2 separate regions of the Homo sapiens genome follow, and region 2 is linked to region 1. The links come from fine-mapping of genetic effects on gene expression. Tissue or cell type: testis. Region 1 holds a variant in brackets; the other region holds the start of a gene. All regions are shown on one strand. Distances are between the middles of the regions.

What was found. PIP is the estimated chance that this variant, and not a neighbour inherited with it, causes the effect.
Region 2: it holds the start of SCN9A, and the variant in region 1 is fine-mapped to the expression of SCN9A in testis (GTEx, PIP 0.91).

The regions. Positions count from the first base shown.
Region 1 is chr2:166,340,325-166,343,243 of GRCh38, reverse strand. The region is part of intron 1 of SCN9A (sodium voltage-gated channel alpha subunit 9); the gene reads left to right. Among named protein-coding and RNA genes, the nearest start is that of SCN9A, 34 kb to the left of the region's middle. The variant C/T (reference allele first, on the strand shown) is at 1,210.
Region 2 is chr2:166,374,375-166,377,293 of GRCh38, reverse strand. SCN9A (sodium voltage-gated channel alpha subunit 9) reads left to right here and starts at 1,350. Exons shown (of 27, transcript NM_001365536.1): 1 at 1,350-1,597.

The sequences.
Region 1 (2,919 bases):
GAAATAAAACATTGATTAGAATTCTAAATAGGTTATCACAAATCTATAATTTTTTTCCTATAAAACAAGCAAAGTATATGACAAAAAAATCGGTGCTCTTTTTTCACCTCACCAAGAAAATTAGTGTAATTATTTCATATGAATAAGACTTTTTACCTGCACTACATTATTTAGTTAATTTTACAGGCTCTAGAAAGATGTTATGCAAGAGAAGACATTTCAATTAATCTGATGTTGAAAGAATGCTAGTTTTAAAACTCAATGCACTCTATGTGCTAAAAACGTTTTTGCAGCATGAAGGTAGGGATGGACAGGGACATGTTTGCCTGAGTTCTCCAGGGAAGCTTTGGTGGTGGATGTATGCAAAGGGCATAATCTGTGGTTTCCAAAGTTGAATATGCACACCTAAGAACAATGCTGGAAGAGCTTTGTCTTCATTCTTATCTTTAAAAGTTTCAATTTTATTCAAGATCAAGGTAATGATAGATTTAAAAAATAATGATAAAATAAAAAATAGTTTCAATTTTGTGTATATTTTTAAATGCATATGTTTTACACTGCATGTGTAGATTGTTTATAATTTAGCAAGCATATAAATTCATTTATTGGGAGATCTTTTATTATTATTGGTATTGCTATTATTGAGCTGGTAAGGGTGATGATCAAAAATAATTGGAGACTCTATTCTAAACGTGAGGTAGAAAATTTTCTCTGACTCTAATGGTTTAATCTTTAAAAAACAGTTTAAGCCACACTATAATTAAAGCCATAATGTTTGTAACACTTAATTATAAGGATGGAAAACTTGGTCCTATAGATATTATCACCTTAAGGAAAGGCAGGAAAGCTAACTGCAGTAGTTGACCATTGGCACATTGAAGGGGTCATGACTGGCCTGCAGTGTCAAAAAGTGACCAAACAGGGACATCTCCATATGGCATTCATTGACTAGATTGGTTCTATTACTGATTGAAGTCATTTGTGTTTTTTGTACAAACTTTAAATAGCCCAAAGATTCTAAACGATTTTAAAGTAAATGCAATATATTATTAGTATTATATAGTCTATACATACGTGCTGATGTGTTTGTGCGCTTTTCTCTATTTATAGGGCATCATAATTTCTCAAATATAAGGTATAATATAATCAGGACAAGACTTGGGAACAACATAGTATACATAATAATCACATAGTTATTATTTTGACAAA[C/T]ATTTATGCCACACATGCAGAAACACAAGTCTGCAACCCTCCCTATGTATTGACATTATTCTGCAAGTATGCTTACAAAACAATATAAGAGAGATCAGAATATCCTAGTATTCTTAAGGTTAAAACCGAAACCTTTCTTGTATTTCCTGAATGAAATGACAGATTAATGTTATTGATGAAATGAATATGGCTTGGCTTCCTTGAGACACAGGCTGTTAGTAAAAAAGCAATTAAGAAAATAATAAAGAAATGAAACAGCAATTCCTCTTCCTTTTTCCTTTCTTCTGTACTGTGTCATAGCAAAAGTAATATAATAGCAACTAATTATAGGAAATCTCCCAGACTTTGTAATTGGATCTTTCATTTTTTCCCACAGCAACTGTGAACTAAGAATTTATTCACAGAGCAGCTGTAGTTTGTTTCCAGTAACTCTTAGCAGTGTCTCTTTGTGGAGTCTTAAAGAGACCCATGTACATATTTAGGCATATTGGCTAAACTAGTGCCTTTTAAAACATCTGCAGGTCTATTGTTGCCAATTCTTTCATTGTCTTCTATCAAATTAACTTTTCTTAGACGGTATAAAGTGGGAGAAGCCACTGAACTCAAAGCTCAAAGCCTGACTTCTGGTCATAGCTTCAATGTTTCCTTAAACATGACTTGGTAACAAGCACCAAACTTTGTAAATCTCAATGTCACCTTTGGTAAGAAAAATGAAAGGAATCTTTGCAGTTTATATTTTAGAGCATTGCTATATGTGAAAGAGCTGTGAAAATTATAAACCAGTGTAACTCACCATGTCATTATATAGATATGTCTAAGTTATTCTTGAATGTGAAATTTCCATTTGCTTGACAAATGTCACTCTATTACATACATGATAGTTAAAAGCATCTTATTTTCCATTTGTTCCCCAGCCCAGTTTTCAACTTTTCTTCTAAAAAGGTAAGGTCAATTAAGAGATATTTCCAAAGGAAATAGTTCTTTAGAAAATACTTTAGTATATCAATGCACATAATAATACAAAGAAATGCAGTTATAAAAATAAAATATAGAATAAATACACAGCTACCATATTCTTGGCATATATTTGTACATGAAGAAATAAACTTCAAAGCCAGGCAGGACGGCTCATGCCTGCAATCCCAGCACTTTGGGAGGCTGAGGTGGGTGGATCACTTGAGCCCAGGAGTTCAAGACCAGCCGGGGCAACATAGTAAGACCCCATTTCTATAAAAAATAGACAAAACTTAGCCGGGTGTTGTGGCGCCTGCCTGCAGTCCTAGCTACTTGAGAGGCTGAGGTGGGAGGGTCACTTGAATCCCAGAGGTGGAGGCTGCAGTGAGCTGTCAATGCACTACTGCACTACAGCCTGGGTGACACAGAAATACACTATCAAAAAAGAAAGAAGAGAAAGGAAAGAAAGAAAGAAAAAGAAAGAAAGAAAGAAAGAAAGAAAGAAAGAAAGAAAGAAAGAAAGAAAGAAAGAAAGAAAGGGAAAGAAAAGAAAGGAGAGAGGGAAGGAAGGAAAAGAAAGAAAGAAAGAAAAAAAGAAAGAGAAAGAAAGAAAACGTTGTGATATGATTAGAGGACTAAGTCTTAACGATTAGAAGCCTGATTTTTAAAAAATTCAAAAACCAAGAATCAGTAGTAGTAGTTGAGAAAGTAAAACTGAGTGAAAAGTAGTTTTGCAATCAATGTGGAAACACTATT
Region 2 (2,919 bases), 34 kb before region 1:
AGAGAAGGCGATTTGTCCAGGATATGGCACTGAGAATTATCACAAGTGAGCTAGTTCACCTTCATTGCACAGTCTCAGTCACTGAAGTTTCCTTCCTTCAATAGCACATCTTACAAGTCAAGAATGTAAGGTCCAAAGCCCCAGGACAAATCTCAGAAGCAAAGAAAGCAGCAGGGAAAAGTAGACCCTGGGATTTGATTTCCTTCCGGTTATCTCTAAGCATCATTTCCATGATAGAAGGTGTGGAAGCAAATAATAAAAGTGCCCGTCACTAGTGTTTATCCTGCAAAGTGGTCTGCCCTTTTGAGAGGCACCCTGCCCTATGGCCATCCTTTGATTTCTTCCCTTGGTGGAAATTTCCTGTTTCTCTTTGAGAAAGATAATTCAACCCTGTTTCCATTGTTCTTCCTCCCAGGCTGCTGTAGGAAAGCGCACGCACACACTCCACACAAAATGAATTTTTAAAAAATTTATTTTCACAGTCGCTCCTACCAGCTCTGAAATTCAGAACCCATATGACTGATGGCATATTCAGATAATCGGGTCCCAGGTCTGGAAAAGCAGCCTTTTCCCCACGTTTCTTTCCCCACCTAGGACCTCCTCTGATTCTTCACTGCATCTTCGAAAGAAAATGTATTATTTGCTTGCCTGGAAGACGCTGCAATTCAATTGATTTTATATATACATATATATAAAGAAAACAGAAAACATAGCCTAGATACCGGTCTTGAGCGTCACCGCCCCACTCGCGGTTGTGAGCAAAGCCCTACGGAAGAAACCAATTCCCAGCCTAGACTCTTCAGAGCCCAAGGTCGGGGAGGCGCTGGCCTGGCGGTGTTGTCTGGCTCCCCAGCCACTGCCCCAGACTCAGGGCTTTGCCATTGGTCCCCACCTCCTCTGCTCCGGAGTTTTTCTCCAGCTCCCCACCAAGCCACACAAAGTGACTTCTCGGAAACATTAGCCGATTCTGCTGAGCAGGAAGGGAGGAAAGGGATGATGGGGGCGGGGGTGAGATAAGGGAAGGGCTCTTCTGGCTGCTGGACACACACACACACACACTCAAACACACACACGCCCCACCCAATGGGTGGCCGTGGATGGCAGGTCGTGCAACCCCCTCCTCCGCCTTCTATTAGCGCATGGTGCAGAGGCTACAGCGTCGCCACCACCGCGCCCCTAGCTGGGTCCCCGCCCTGCGCCGCCCGCAGGAGTGGAGAGAGGGAGGGAGGGAGGGAGCAAGGGGTGGGGACCCGGGCGCGCTGGGAGGAGTGGAGGAGGCAAAGCGGCGCAGCTGCCCTCGGGGAGGCGGGGCTGCTACCTCCACGGGCGCGCCCTGGCAGGAGGGGCGCAGTCTGCTTGCAGGCGGTCGCCAGCGCTCCAGCGGCGGCTGTCGGCTTTCCAATTCCGCCAGCTCGGCTGAGGCTGGGCTAGCCTGGGTGCCAGTGGCTGCTAGCGGCAGGCGTCCCCTGAGCAACAGGAGCCCAGAGAAAAAGAAGCAGCCCTGAGAGAGCGCCGGGGAAGGAGAGGCCCGCGCCCTCTCCTGGAGCCAGATTCTGCAGGTGCACTGGGTGGGGATGATCGGCGGGCTAGGTTGCAAGTAAGTGCCTTTTCTTTTGCTGCTTCTGTGGGGAGGGGAGGAGAAGCCCTCGGTCTTTCGCCCGTGCTCGCCTCAACCGCCACACCCACCTGTGTCTATTTTCACATCTCGGTTCTGGAACCCTGTATTACGCCACCTGGAAAGAAGAGAGGGGAGAAGCTTGACCGGGTGGTTCCAGCAATGGGAGGAAGAAGGGCTGGAAGCGTAGTTATTTCGATAGCTGGGCAGCTCCTGTGCGGTTTTGACTCTGTGGGTTTGCTGCCAGGTTCTGAAACTGTGGAAAGGAAGGGTAGCAATGCCTGGTGGTTTACTGTCTTTTATTTCTGTTTACGCTAGCAGAGTTGTTAGATGGACTTCAATTCAAGGGGCAGCTCACATTTTTTACGAGCAAAAAGCATGTGCTGTATTTCCCATCTGCAAAGCTGAGCGTGCAGAACCAGCTTAGCAGATACAACCTGTGGGGACAGAAAAGAACCCCGCACCCCTTAAGAGCACACAAACACAAATAATTGACAGGACAGCTCTGCCCCTATTTCTCAGCGCAGATTATTTATTTATTTTTTCGAATAAGCACTTTATAGTGAAATTCAGAAAAGATGCAGAATCCTTTTAACTTTTTATCGAATTCAACTTGGGAAACTCATTTACTTTTAGGAAAAAATGGATATTTTCGTGCCTTATATTCAAGACAAAAATCAGAACAAGAAACTAGAAACATTAATGCCAGTTTTTGTGATTATAGTAAACATTTCACTCATTATTTTAGTTTTTTTTTTTTAAGTTGGAGCGTTCATAGATTATATCTACTCTGATGTTAAGAGCAATTTACATGAGAAACTTAGGGGGGTTTTTAAGAAGCTAGTGTCAGTAAGATAAAAGCCAAATCAAAGTAAGCTTTCAAGGAAGTGATAGCTTGTCAGTTACTGAATAGGAAGTCAGTGTTGGGAAGTTCAGTTCTTTTCAGAAACATATTTATTATTCTTTTCTATTTCTTCTTCCCTGTAGACAAGATAAAGATTTTCTTTCTCTTTCTTTCCTTGTTATTTAAATATATTTTATAATTTTTGCTTTAACATCAATATAAACCTATTTTATATAAACTGCAAACCAAATCCAATTATTAAACTGTTCATTTTATTGCAAATTCTTCAGATTTTTTCCACTATTTAAAAAAGTTTATAATTTTTTCTTATAATTATGGTGAGATTTTTTAAAAATTATTGATTAGTTTGAAAGCTAGTCTTATCTGATCCCTGTGTCGCAAATTTTCATGATTGTTAGACTAGCTTATCAACAACAAAACTCTAGACAGAATATGGTAT